2 linked regions of the Homo sapiens genome follow. The protein of the gene in region 2 interacts with the protein of the main gene of each other region in a pairwise test. Each region holds a gene or a part of one and is shown on either strand. Other genes may lie near its edges.

Region 1 (5,020 bases), on a different chromosome or scaffold from region 2:
TAATTCATGTCGAGTTATTTTACATATATGGTGAAATGTAGAGGTTCAGTTTCATTCTTCTGCACATGGCTAGCCAGTTATCCCAGCACCATTTGTTGAATTGGGACTCTTTCCCATTGCTTATTTTTGTTGATTTTGTTGAAGGTTAGAAGGTGTGAAGGTTTCTTTCTGAGCTCTCTATTCTGTTCCACTGATCTAAGTGTCTATTTTGGTACCAGTACCATTCTGTTTCGATCACCGTAGCCTTATATTATAGTTTGAAGTCAGGCAATGTGATGCCTCTGGCGTTGTTCTTTTTGCTTATGATTGTTTTGGCTATTTGGGCTCTTTTTTAATTCCAAATACCTTTTAGATTAGATTTTTCTAATTTTGTGAAAAATGACATTGGTGTTGATAGAGAAAGTGTTGCATCTATAAATCGCTTTTGGAAGTATGACCATTTTAGCTATATTGATTCTCCAACCCATGAGCATGAAATATTTTTCTATGTATTTGTGTTGTCTCTGATTTTTCTCAGCCATGTTTTGTAGATTCTCTTTTTCCACACAAAATCTGGTAGAATCACTCATTTATTACTCCATATCATGGAGGAAAAATGAAATAACATTAATTCCCTACTGAGTAATACAACAAAATTCTAAACACCGTAGGTTTTTGGGAAATAGAACTCTTTATTTAAATATCAGTACAGAACAATAAATTACTAAAGGAAACAATCATTAATATAAATTTTTTCTTATTAAATAATTTAAAAATTCTCTTTCAGGACACGGAAAGAATCCCCAGAGGTCTGAAGTCTAACGTGATTATTTTACTGACAATATCATTTGCAAGAAAGAGATCATCATTCAAAGAAGTACTTGATTTTCCAAACAAAAAGAGAAGAAAGAAAATGATATATCTTGTTTAGTCAGCCAGAACTTTAAGTGCAGGAATTCCATCAGGTAGCACCAAGAGAAAATTGCATAATATGTTAGGTATAACTGCTGGTAAAATTGTTGGCAAAAGGAATCAAGGCAGTGAATGAGCTATTGGGTCCATGATGTCATCATGATCTGCTGGAGGCCACTGGACATACACCGTAGGTCGTGGGCAGCTGGCCAGACAGAAGGGCGAGTTTGATCAAGACCGTGCTCACAGGAGCCTTTTGGTATCAGCTTTAACCTTCAGAAAGGACACAAATGTTGGTTTAAGGGGCAGAGAACCCGGATCACTTTTCCAGGGTAATCTTTCCCTAGTCACTCTATGTCTCAGAGCCCCCTGCACTAAGGGACCTATTTTTCCCTTGAGCCTCAACCCTGGCGACTGCAGCTTGGACCTACCTCTTTCCTCCTCTGTCACATCACAGAGTCAGCCCAGGCCCTGCACCTGACCAGGGGATGGAGTGGAGGGGCCTGCAGGTCTGAAGCTGGTAGTGATGGGTCCGCGCCCTCACTCAAGGCCCTCTCTATGATCTGATGTGAAGGCCTAAAACAGGCAAGGGGTGGGGCAGACTTCCAAAAAGAGGGCTCCATATTCCTGTGCCCTTGGCCTTTGGTGGGCCTGCAGGCAAACATCCTTCTTTCCCCTTCTTCTTGAGCCTCTCCTCACACTGGGAGCAGCACCCATTGCTCTGAAGGTGACTGTCCCTGTTCCACCTTATCAATTCCTTGTCCAGCCCAGTGGTGCCTGTGGAACCCCAGCAGCAGCTCAGACCCCCCTTCCTCTGAGTCCACTCTGCTCCAGGCAGGGCCATCAGTGGGCTCAGGATCTGGGGTGTGCAGGAGGATGATGGCAGGGGAGCTGCCTCAGGGCCCAGACTCGAGCTGCACATGTCCATGGGACTGACTTTTTAAAAATCCTTCTCTTGAGCAGCCTCTACTCTTCACCTTCCACCTTAATTCCTGGAACCCAAGCCACTTTCTGTGGGAAGGCAGCCCTGCACTCCCTCCTTTTCAATTAGGTGTACCAAGGTTCTCCCAGCCCCCTCCTCCTGGGATTACACCCAGATCTCTCTTAGCCTCAGAGATGGAATCCCCCTTCCCCTGTCACACCTCATGTAAAGCTACCATGATGCACCTAACCCAATTAAGAGGACTGCCCATGTCTGAATTCCTGCTGCCTGCAGGCCACACACCCTTCCTGAATAGGAACCTGCTCTGAATCAGGCCTGAACTTGCTAAACCTTCTCAAGCTCAACAGACCCTGAGCCTTGGTATGGGCCCCTCCCTTTCCCTCTGGACTCTGAAGGTGAGAATCCATCAGAACTCAGGGCTGAGCTGCCCAGGTCATTGCCAACATTGCCAACAGGCAACACAAGGTCTCATTCACCTGTCTCATGTTAGGATGAGAAGGTCCCAGCCACGGGGAGGGGCGGGACTCCGGGAATTCTCTTTCCCCATCCTGCCTCCTCACCCACCTGCTCCTTGCTCCACTTCCAATTCTGCCCACAGTACCTGTCACTCTAAAGGACTCTCCTCAGATGCCAGGGAGGATGAAGCAGGGGAGGATGATGAGGAGGCAGCAAAGGATGAGGGTGGTGGCTGTGGCCCTGAGTTGGGTTGTGCCTGAGGACATGGCGAGTGGTGCTGAAATGGAAACACAAAAGTGACAACCCTTGTCCAGGCCCCAAATCTGAGGAGACACCTCCTCAGTTCCTGCCACCCTAGGTCATCCTGGAAGGCAAAAGTTTTGTCCTCTCCCCCCTGGTGTGGGGCAGCCAGTATGACAGGTCCTGGCTTAGGAAGGGAGACGGGGTGAGTCTTGTCCTCAGGGAGCTCACACAGCTGCTGAGGGAAGCAAGGTGACAACACACCCCACCCTCCTGCTGTGGGGGAAGAGGAGGTGATGCCCCAGAGTTGGGGAGGGGAGGATCTCTGGGCTGGCGTTGGAAGTGGTTTTGATGGATTTCCAGAACCAGACCAGGGAAAGGAAAGGAAAAGTGATTCTCAAAAGAGGAAACACTAAGGAAAAAGGTCTGAAAACAGTGACACCTGCAGTTTCAAGGCTGGTGAGAAATCCACAGGGCGGGGAGCAGGAGCAAGTGCAGTGAGGAATAGGAGTCAGGAGGGAGAAGGAAGAGGACGGTGGGAGAGCACAGGCATGCCAGTAACCCCAGGAGGAGCGCCCCACGAGGAGGTCATTTTAACGTGAATGTGTATACTGGGATGATTGAAGCTGAACTCAAGAACTAACTTCTTGAGGTCACCATTTCTGATCACATTTGAGATCCCCGTTTCTTTTTCTCCTGTTACCTCCTGCACTTGGCTCCAGGGTGCTGTCCATGCCCATCAAGAAGTCCTCAAGCCATCCTATACAGTCTCCCATTGAGAAGTAATGGAAGGACATGGCCACAACCTTGTCATTCTCCCACTTTTCTTTCATCTTTCTGGCTCCAGGATGAACCGTTGTCCACATTCTCTTCTCTGAGTCAAAGAGGAGGAAGATCTGCCCATCGAAACTGAACTGCCAAGATCCACTGCTGTGTCCTTCAGCTTTCTGCTCACAAGACATCCTTGCCTGCAGGGTGAGGGGTTCTGCCCCCATCAGAGAGAGATCAGCTCTGATCTTGACAAATTTTGCACCCCCATCCTGTTCCCCTTACAATTTGCTGGCCTTACTCTCTCTGCTACATCTTGGCCTTGCCTCTAGACTCTTGAGGGGTATGATGACCTTCCCATTTGTATTTTTTTTTTTTTTTTGAGAAAGGGTCTCGCTCTGTCACCCAGGCTGGATGGAGTGCAGTGGCGCGATCTCGGCTCACTCAGCCTCCTAAGTAGCTGGGACTACAGGCGCCCGCCACCATACCCGGCTAATTTTTTGTATTTTTAGTACAGACAGGGTTTCACTGTGTTAACCAGGATGGTCTCGATCTCTTAACCTCGTGATCCGCCTGCCTCAGCCTCCCAAAATGCTGGGATTACAGGCTTGAGCCACTGCACCTGGCTTTTTTTTTTTTTTTTTTTTTGAGACAAAGTCTCACTCTGTTGCCCAGGCTGGAGTGCAGTGGCACCACCTCGGCTCACTGCAGCGTCTGCCTGCCGGGTTCAAGGGATCCTCCTGCCTCAGCCTCCCAAGTTGCTGGGATTACAGGCATGCGCCACCATGCCTGGCTAATTTTTGCATTTTTGGTAGAGACAGTGTTTCACCATGTTGGTCAGGCTGGTCTCGAATTCCTGACCTTGTGATCGGCCCACCTCTACCTCACAAAGTGCTGGGACTACAGGCGTGAGCCACCGTGCCCAGGACCCTTTTGTATTTTTACATGAAAACTATAAATGCCTCTAACCTACCACTGTATCTGTTCCCTGCTGTCCTGGGCCATCTGAAACTTACCCTTGGGTGTGTAATTCTCCAGCTGAATGTCACGCAGTTGCTCTGTAAGTATGTCCACCACCTCTCTCAGTACTGGGTTCTGTGCTTTCCAGGCCGTTGTGACATTTAGTTTCTTCCCCAGGGGACTGACAGGTGTGACTGTCTTGTTGCCACAGTCATAGTGAAGAAAAGTCTTTTCATCCACCTGGCCTTGAACCGCACACCACCGTGGTCCAGGTCTGAACTTAGGGATGACGGTGATGTCATAGCAAAGAGAGTGAGGGTCTGTGGAGAAAGGCAGGTGAGGGGTGGGTGGGGAGGAAAAGACCCCTAGTTAGCCCCCCTCCACGCTGTGTCAATAAGAGGATGCCTCTGGCAGGCTGGGCTGGCCCAGGAAGGAGTGCCCCCTCCAGAACTGTGGTGTCTACAAGTTTAAGGCGAGTGCTCGCCCCTTGCATGAGGACAAGGAGGAGGAGGAGGAGGAAGTCTCTGTCTGCTGAGAAACCACATGTCCCCAGACATGTCCCACTGCCCCTCTGCCCACATCAGTCAACACGTGACCTTGCTAGAAAGGTGCCAGGCCTCTCTAGCAAGAGAGGAGGAAGGGCCTGGATGGCAGAGGATCTTCAGCAGTAGCCCACGTGGACTGCGGGAGGTGGGAGAGGGTGTGGGTCCACCCCTGTGGATGCTGGTGCTGGTTGAACAGAGTGAGGATGGAACCCCGTTG
Region 2 (7,298 bases):
AATCATGTATCTAATAAGGGATTAATATCCAGAATATATTAAGAACTTATGTAATCCAATGACAAAAACCCTAATAACCCTATTTAAAAATGGACAAAGGATTCAAATAGATATTTCTCCAAAGAAGATATACAAATGTCCAATAAGCATATGAAAAGATGCTCAACATTACTATCATCAGAAAAACATAAATCAAAACCACTGTTAAATATCACTTCATACCCATTAGCATGGCCGCTATGAAAAAAGCAGAAAATAACAATTATTGCTTAGGTTGTGAAGAAATTTGGGCCCTTGTGCACTGTTAATGAAAATGTAAAATGGTACAGTCACTATGGAAAACATTATGGAGGTTCCTCAAAAAATTTAAAATTGAGTTGACATATGAACCAACAATCTTACTTCTGTAGAGCCAAAGGAGTTGAGATCAGGAACTTGAACAGGTATCGGCACTCCCATGTTCATTGCAACAGTTAAAACATAGAAGCAACATACAAGCCCATTGATGAATTGGTGGATAAAGAAAATGTGGCATGTGTATAAAATGGAATACAATTCTGCCATTAAAAAGAAGAAAAAGCTATTGCAACAACATGGATAAACCTGAAGGACATTATGCTGAGTAAAATAATAGTAAATTCATAGAAGCAGGGAGTAGAAGGGTGGTTGTCAGGGGCTGGGAGAGGGAAAAACAGGAGAGTATTAGTCAAAGGGTACAAACTTTCAGTTATACGAGATGAACAAGGTCTAGATATCTGTTTTACTACACAGAACCTGTAGTTAATAATGTTGTATACTAAAGATTTGGCTAAGAGCGTAGATCTTAAGTGTTTGTATCACAAAAAATAATAATAAAGAAGGTGGAAGGAAACTTCTGGAGATTACAGATATGTTTATGACACAGATTGTGGTGGTTTCATGGTTATACACTTATCTCTAATCTTATCAAGTTGTATGCATTAAATATGTACAGCTTTTTGTATGTCAATCATACTTCAATAAAGTTGTTTAAACATTTTTAAAAAGGATAATATACTTTATTTTAAAAAAGGAAGTCTTGTTGCATGCTGCAACATGGATAAATCTTAAGGACATTATGCTAAGTTAAATAAGCCAGTCACACAAAAAAAATGCTGCCTGCTTTATTTATATGAGATATCTAAAGTATTCAAACTCATAGAAACAGAAAGTAGAATGCTGATTGCTAGGGGCAAAAAGGGGAGTTGTCCAATGTGTATAGAGTTTCAGTTTTGCAAAATGAACAAATTCTAGAAATCTGTTGTAAAATGTGAATATAGTTAACACTACTGACCTGTTCACTTAAAAATGGTTGAGATATATGATATGGTTAAGATGTAATGGCTCAGATGTAACATACTGTATGAGTTCAACTATATGACATTCTGGAAAAGTAAACAACTATGGAGACAGTACAAAAATCGATGCTTGCCATGTGTTTGAAGGAGGAAAGGATGAATGGGCAGAGCACAGAAGATTTTCAGGGCAATGCAATTATTCTGTATGATCTATGATGATAAAGACATGTCATTATCATTATATATTTGGCCAGACCCATAAAGTGTAAAACACTGAGTGAAACTTAACATAAGCTATGGTCTTTCAATAATAATGATGTTTCAATTGTAACAAATATACCATGCTGATGGGGGATATTGATCATGGGAGAAGTAGTGCATGAGTGAGGACCATGGGAAGTCTCTGTAGCTTTCTCTCAATTTTCACAAGATGTGGAACCAGTATATAAATAGATACCTAGATTAATCAAATAGACTACAAAGTGCAAAAATGTATCCACAAATATATGGAATGTAGAATAGTTCAAGAAAGATGTAAAGGCATTCAGTGGAGAAAGTATAATCTTTTTAACAAATGTTTAAACACTTGGCTATCAATATGCACACACAAAATATTTTGATCTATACCTCATACCACATACAAAATAAGCTCAACTTGTGCACAGCAAAAGAAACTTTAAGCTCCTATAAACAGACAACCTACAGAATGGGAAAAATATTTGCAAACTATGCACTTGACAAAGGTCCAATATCCAGAATCTATGAGGAACAATTAAATAATCAAATAATAAATAATCCCATTAAAATAGGCAAAAGACATAACAGACAATTCTCAAAAGAAGACATACAAGCGGCCAAAAAACACATGAAAAAAATATGAAACATAATTATCAGAGAAATGCAAATCAAAGCTGAAATGAGATTCCATCTAACACCAGTCAGAAGGACTATTACTAAAATGTCAAAGACAACTGATGTTGGCAAGGCTTTGGAGAAAAGGGAACACTTACACACTGAAGGTATGAATGTAAATTAGTCCAGCCACTGAGGAAGGCAGTCCAGAGATTTCTCAGCGAACTTAGAACTACCATTTGATCCACCAATCTTACTACTGGGTATATCCCCCAAAAGACACATGCACTTGCGTGTTCATCACAGCATTCTTCATAATAGCAAAGACATGGAATCTCCCTAAATGCCCATCAAGGATAGGCTGGATGAAGACAATGTGGTACATACACACCATGAAATACTAGGCAGTCATAAAAAAAGAACAAGATTATGTCCTTTGCAGCAACATGGATGCAGTGGAAGGCCATTATTCTAAGCCAATTAACACAGAAACAGAAAACCAAATACTGCATGTTCTCACTTATAAGTGGAGCTAAATGATGAGAACACATGGGCACATAGAGGTAAATAACAGACACTGTGGCCTACCTGAGGGTAGAGGGTGGGGGAAGAAAGGGATCAGGAAAAGTAATTAATGGGTACTAGGATTCATACCTGGATGACAAAATAGTCTGTTCAACAAACCCGTGACACGAGTTTAACTATATAGCAAACCTGCATAGGTACTCCAGAGCTTAATATAAAAGTTAAGAAAAAGAGAGGTCAAGAATTGGAAGTGTTTAACTGAAATGAAATAATATAATATTACAGTCAATAAACATATTATATTTACACGTTTATACATACAATTGAAAATATAAATAATTATTTTAAAATTTAACAAATACATATGGAATGATTTTGATTTGTTACAAAGTGCTTGTATTTAAAAATAGTAGTTTGCTGTCTTTATGAGATACTCATAAAAATACTCCTTTAACATAAACATAAAAAATATGAAGATGAAAAATGGAAAAAATATACCATGCAACACAAACTGGTAGAAAACCACTTTAATATACTGTAATAATATAAAACAGAAGTTGTTATTAAAAATGAAGAAGCATATTCATAGTGATATATTTATTATCTATACCATTAGTAATTTTAAAATAATTTGTATGTACCTAATAATACACATTTAATATAAAGTTGAAAGAAATAAATGAGTAATTAATAAATTTAGGGATTTAGTCACTTCTCTTTCACATCTCATCACACAAACAGATACATCACTGACTCTATACAGAGATTTAAACTAGACAATTAGCCAACACACCTGTGTATACACACACATATAAACTGTATACTAATTCGGAATACTAATATTTTTAAGCTACACTGTATTTTCATAAACCTATGCATTTTAATATAAAATTTAGAAGTTTGCTATAAGTACAGTAGCATTAGCCAAAGTTGGCCAGTGGACAGTTAAAATGCACCAATTCAAGTTTAATATTAATTAATTAGAAGTAAATAACATTAAACATAAGTTTATTAGTCACACTAGCTATATTTACACAGAGATGAAGAACATTTCTAGCCTCACAGAAAATGTTCTAACTACAGTTTACTAACACAGAAGTCAATAATCAAAACTTTAGGAACTTTATATGGTTTTATATTCAGTAATATAATTCTAAATAACCTAAGGGCCAAATAAATTATCACAATAAATGTTCACAATTTTTACATCAATTAAAAGGAAAATAGAGCAAAATATTTTCTTGGGAAAAATGGATTGCCTTAAATTCATATATTGCAACAAAATTGCAGATACTGAATTGTCTGAATAAAAACAGAAATATGAAATTAACTGAAATTAAATAGAAGTAAAGTGGTAGGAAGAAAACAATAAATAGTAAAAAATCATGACAAAGAGCAAAATTACAGTAGAGAAGATCAATGAGGCTGAAGATATTTTCATTGAAAGGACTTAATAAAATTGATAAAAGACTTAAAGAATTTGAGAAGGCTCAAATAATTTTCTAGATTAAATAAGGGAAAACCATTATGGTTTTTACAGATATTAAACAGATAATGAAACCATATTATGAATACTTTTATATCTATATGAGATAGAAAATTCTTGAATATGCAAATTACCAAATTGCAATACAACAAACAGAAATCTGAGTAACCTCTATAAATATAAACTTTGTAAATATGGATGAAATGTCTGTATGTGCTAAAGAAATTGACTTTCCTACATAAACTTTCCTACAAAAACATTCTACACACTCAGATGGCATCACTAATGAATAATTACATTTTAAAACAGTACCCTTACACAAAGTCTTCTAGGTTATAGAAAAAGAGAAATGCTTCCCAATATACCCTTAAGAGAAAAGGCTTTCATGTACATAGCTATAAATAAAAACACAGTATAATCTCCTGTGCATTAATAAATTTAAACAGGCAATACAGAATGACCAGTATGGTTTTATTTCAGACTGGTTTAACATTTGAGAGAATTGAAATAGTTTACTTATTAAGATTATGCAGAGAAAACATGTATCATTCCAACTGATGCCAAAATAATAAAAATGTTACAATTGATAACAAAATCTATTAGAAAAACAGGAATATGATAAAGCTGCTTCAATATGAGAAAGGTATAATAAAAACGAACACACTTTGTAAATATGGATGAAATGTTGCAATCTTTTTACCTAAAATAGGAACTGATACATATGATATACATATAACCTTTCTGTGCCTTCTATTCAACATTCAAAATAAAACCTTAGCTAGTCCAGATTCAATGCAATCTGTATCAAAATGCCAGTGACATTCTTCACAGAAATAGCAAAAGCAATCCTCAAATTTATATGGAACCACAAAACATCCAGTATAGCCAAAGCAATTCTGAGCAAAATATCAAAGCTGGAGGCATCACATTACCTGAATATACTACAAAGCTACAGAAACCAAAACAGCATGGTGCTCATATTAAAACAGACATACAGACCAATGAATCCAGAAACAAATCCATTTGTTTACAGACAACTCACTTTTGACAAAGGTGCCAGGAACATACATTGGAAAAAAAAGATAGTCTCTTCAAAAATAATGCTGGGAAAACTGCATATCATAATATGAAAACTGAATGAAGTAGTCCTTTCATCTGCACAGTGGATATGTTCTAAGACCCCCAGTGGATGTCTGAAATCATAGATAGTACTGAACTGTATATATACTGTGTTTTATCTATACATACATACCTTTGATGAAGTTTAATTTATAAATTAGGCACGGTAAGAGATTAAAACAAACTAATAATAATGAAAAAGAACAATTATAACAATATGCCAGCATAAATACTCTTGCATTTTGGGGCCCTTATTAAGTAAACTAAGAGTGACTTGAACACAAGCGGTACCATACCACCTTAGTCAATCTCATAACTGCGACAGCTGAGTGACTAATGGACAGGGAACTTAGGCTGTGCAGGTATCCTGGACGAAGCAATGATTCATGTCCCAGGTGAGATGGAGCCATACACTATATAAAGGATTTGATCACACTACTCAGAAGAGTGAACAATTTAAAACTCATGGATTTTCTCTTCCTAGAGTTTTCCTTTTAATATTTTTGGCCGTGGTTGAGCCTGGGTAACTAAAACCACAGAAAATGTAATTGTGGATCATTCCTTAACATTTATATCAACATTTCACTAACTTTCAACATCTTTATTTATGGCTATAATTGCACTTAAATTTATTCATAATGTTATTCTGAACCTGTCCTTTTATATTCTTCTACTATATAGCATCATTCAAAAAACTTACTTCAATTTGAACGTTGAGCCATTTATTGACACCCATGGATGATCACTGCTACTACGAGAGATGCCAACCCATGAGAGAACTGACAGGGAGCCCAGAAATTTCTAACGAAAAATAAAAAATTTTCATTTAAATAATAACTATAAAAGATTTTACTAATTTTTAGGTGCTTTCTTTGAATTCTAAACTTTTATTAATTTTTAAAAGTGCAGGTAATACATTCTTTCAAAGGATGCTTAATTTTCAAAACAAAATAAATACCTTAAACAAAATAGTAAACTTGAAAACAACTTTTATAGTGTAAAAAGCTATTACAAATTTTTGTAATTTTGACTTAAAATGAACTCTTCAATTTTTATACTTAGTACATTCATTCTTCTTATTTTAACAAGCAAAATTGTGATTCATGTAATTTAACAGTTGCTTGTGTTGGTAAGACAGACACAGTAAGAACTGAAATAAATTTCCTGATACTGTGCATGTATTTCTCCAGATATTCTGATTAAATAAATGTATTTTTCCACTATGTGTCTCATAGTGGAACTTTTCCTCCTTGAAGTTTAGAAGGAAATTGAAAGGTTGCCATTGAGGAAATAAATGACACAGCAGCCAAAAATTGGCTTTTCTGGGCACCACACCACTCTCTAACTAGATAAGCCCTCACTTTTATCTGATTTGGTTTTGGTGGAATAACAATGGTCTTGACCAGGTACATGGACTCCTTTTTCTCTGCTACTCCCTAATAAATACAACTCTAAACTCTGCAAGTAATGAAAGACACACAGGAAAACTCTGAAAGGTGGAAAGAGGAAGGCAAAATAGTTTGGGACCCCAGAATCAGGGATCAACAGAGTGTCCGGGCATCTTCAGTCCCCCACTCAGCAGAAGAAAGTGATCTAGTCCTCTGTTTCTCAGAACCAAATCTGGTAACAGGAGGTGGGTCAGCTAAGCCCATTCCCACTCTGTATTGAAAGGGAGTCCTGCCAGCAACATTAGGCAAGCCTGGTACCACTGGCAAGGATGACCTACCAGGAGGCCTGCTACCAGTTAGGAGCTAGAGGAAGTGCTTCTCCTCCCAAACCAAAAGACATCAGGGTAGGTGCGGTGAGAGGGATCAGCAAAGGAACCGCATGACTACACGTGCCCATCCAGGTTCCTCTTTGTTCCTGAGGGCACGAGACTCACTTCCCCATCCAGAGACACAGGACTGAACAGATTGTAAATGTTCTATGCACATCATGCAGCAATGAAAAGCAACAAACAACAGCTAACTGCATTATTGCACAAATATCATATAGGAGTA

Evidence for each region.
Region 1: the proteins of KLRC4-KLRK1 (region 2) and ULBP2 interact in binary tests that used the Homo sapiens proteins (3 or more experiments, as listed by UniProt).

Annotation. Positions count from the first base shown.
Region 1 is NC_000006.12:149,944,867-149,949,886, reverse strand, and holds the end of ULBP2 (UL16-binding protein 2 preproprotein), read right to left. Parts: intron 4,579-5,020; coding exon 4,315-4,578; intron 3,516-4,314; coding exon 3,234-3,515; intron 2,568-3,233; coding exon 2,458-2,567; 3' UTR 2,436-2,457; exon of another isoform or gene 2,431-2,435; intron 1,165-2,430; coding exon of another isoform or gene 1,160-1,164; 3' UTR 652-1,159; downstream 1-651. UniProt on the Homo sapiens protein: Binds and activates the KLRK1/NKG2D receptor, mediating natural killer cell cytotoxicity.
Region 2 is NC_000012.12:10,399,852-10,407,149, forward strand, and holds part of KLRC4-KLRK1 (NKG2-D type II integral membrane protein), read right to left. Parts: intron 1-7,298.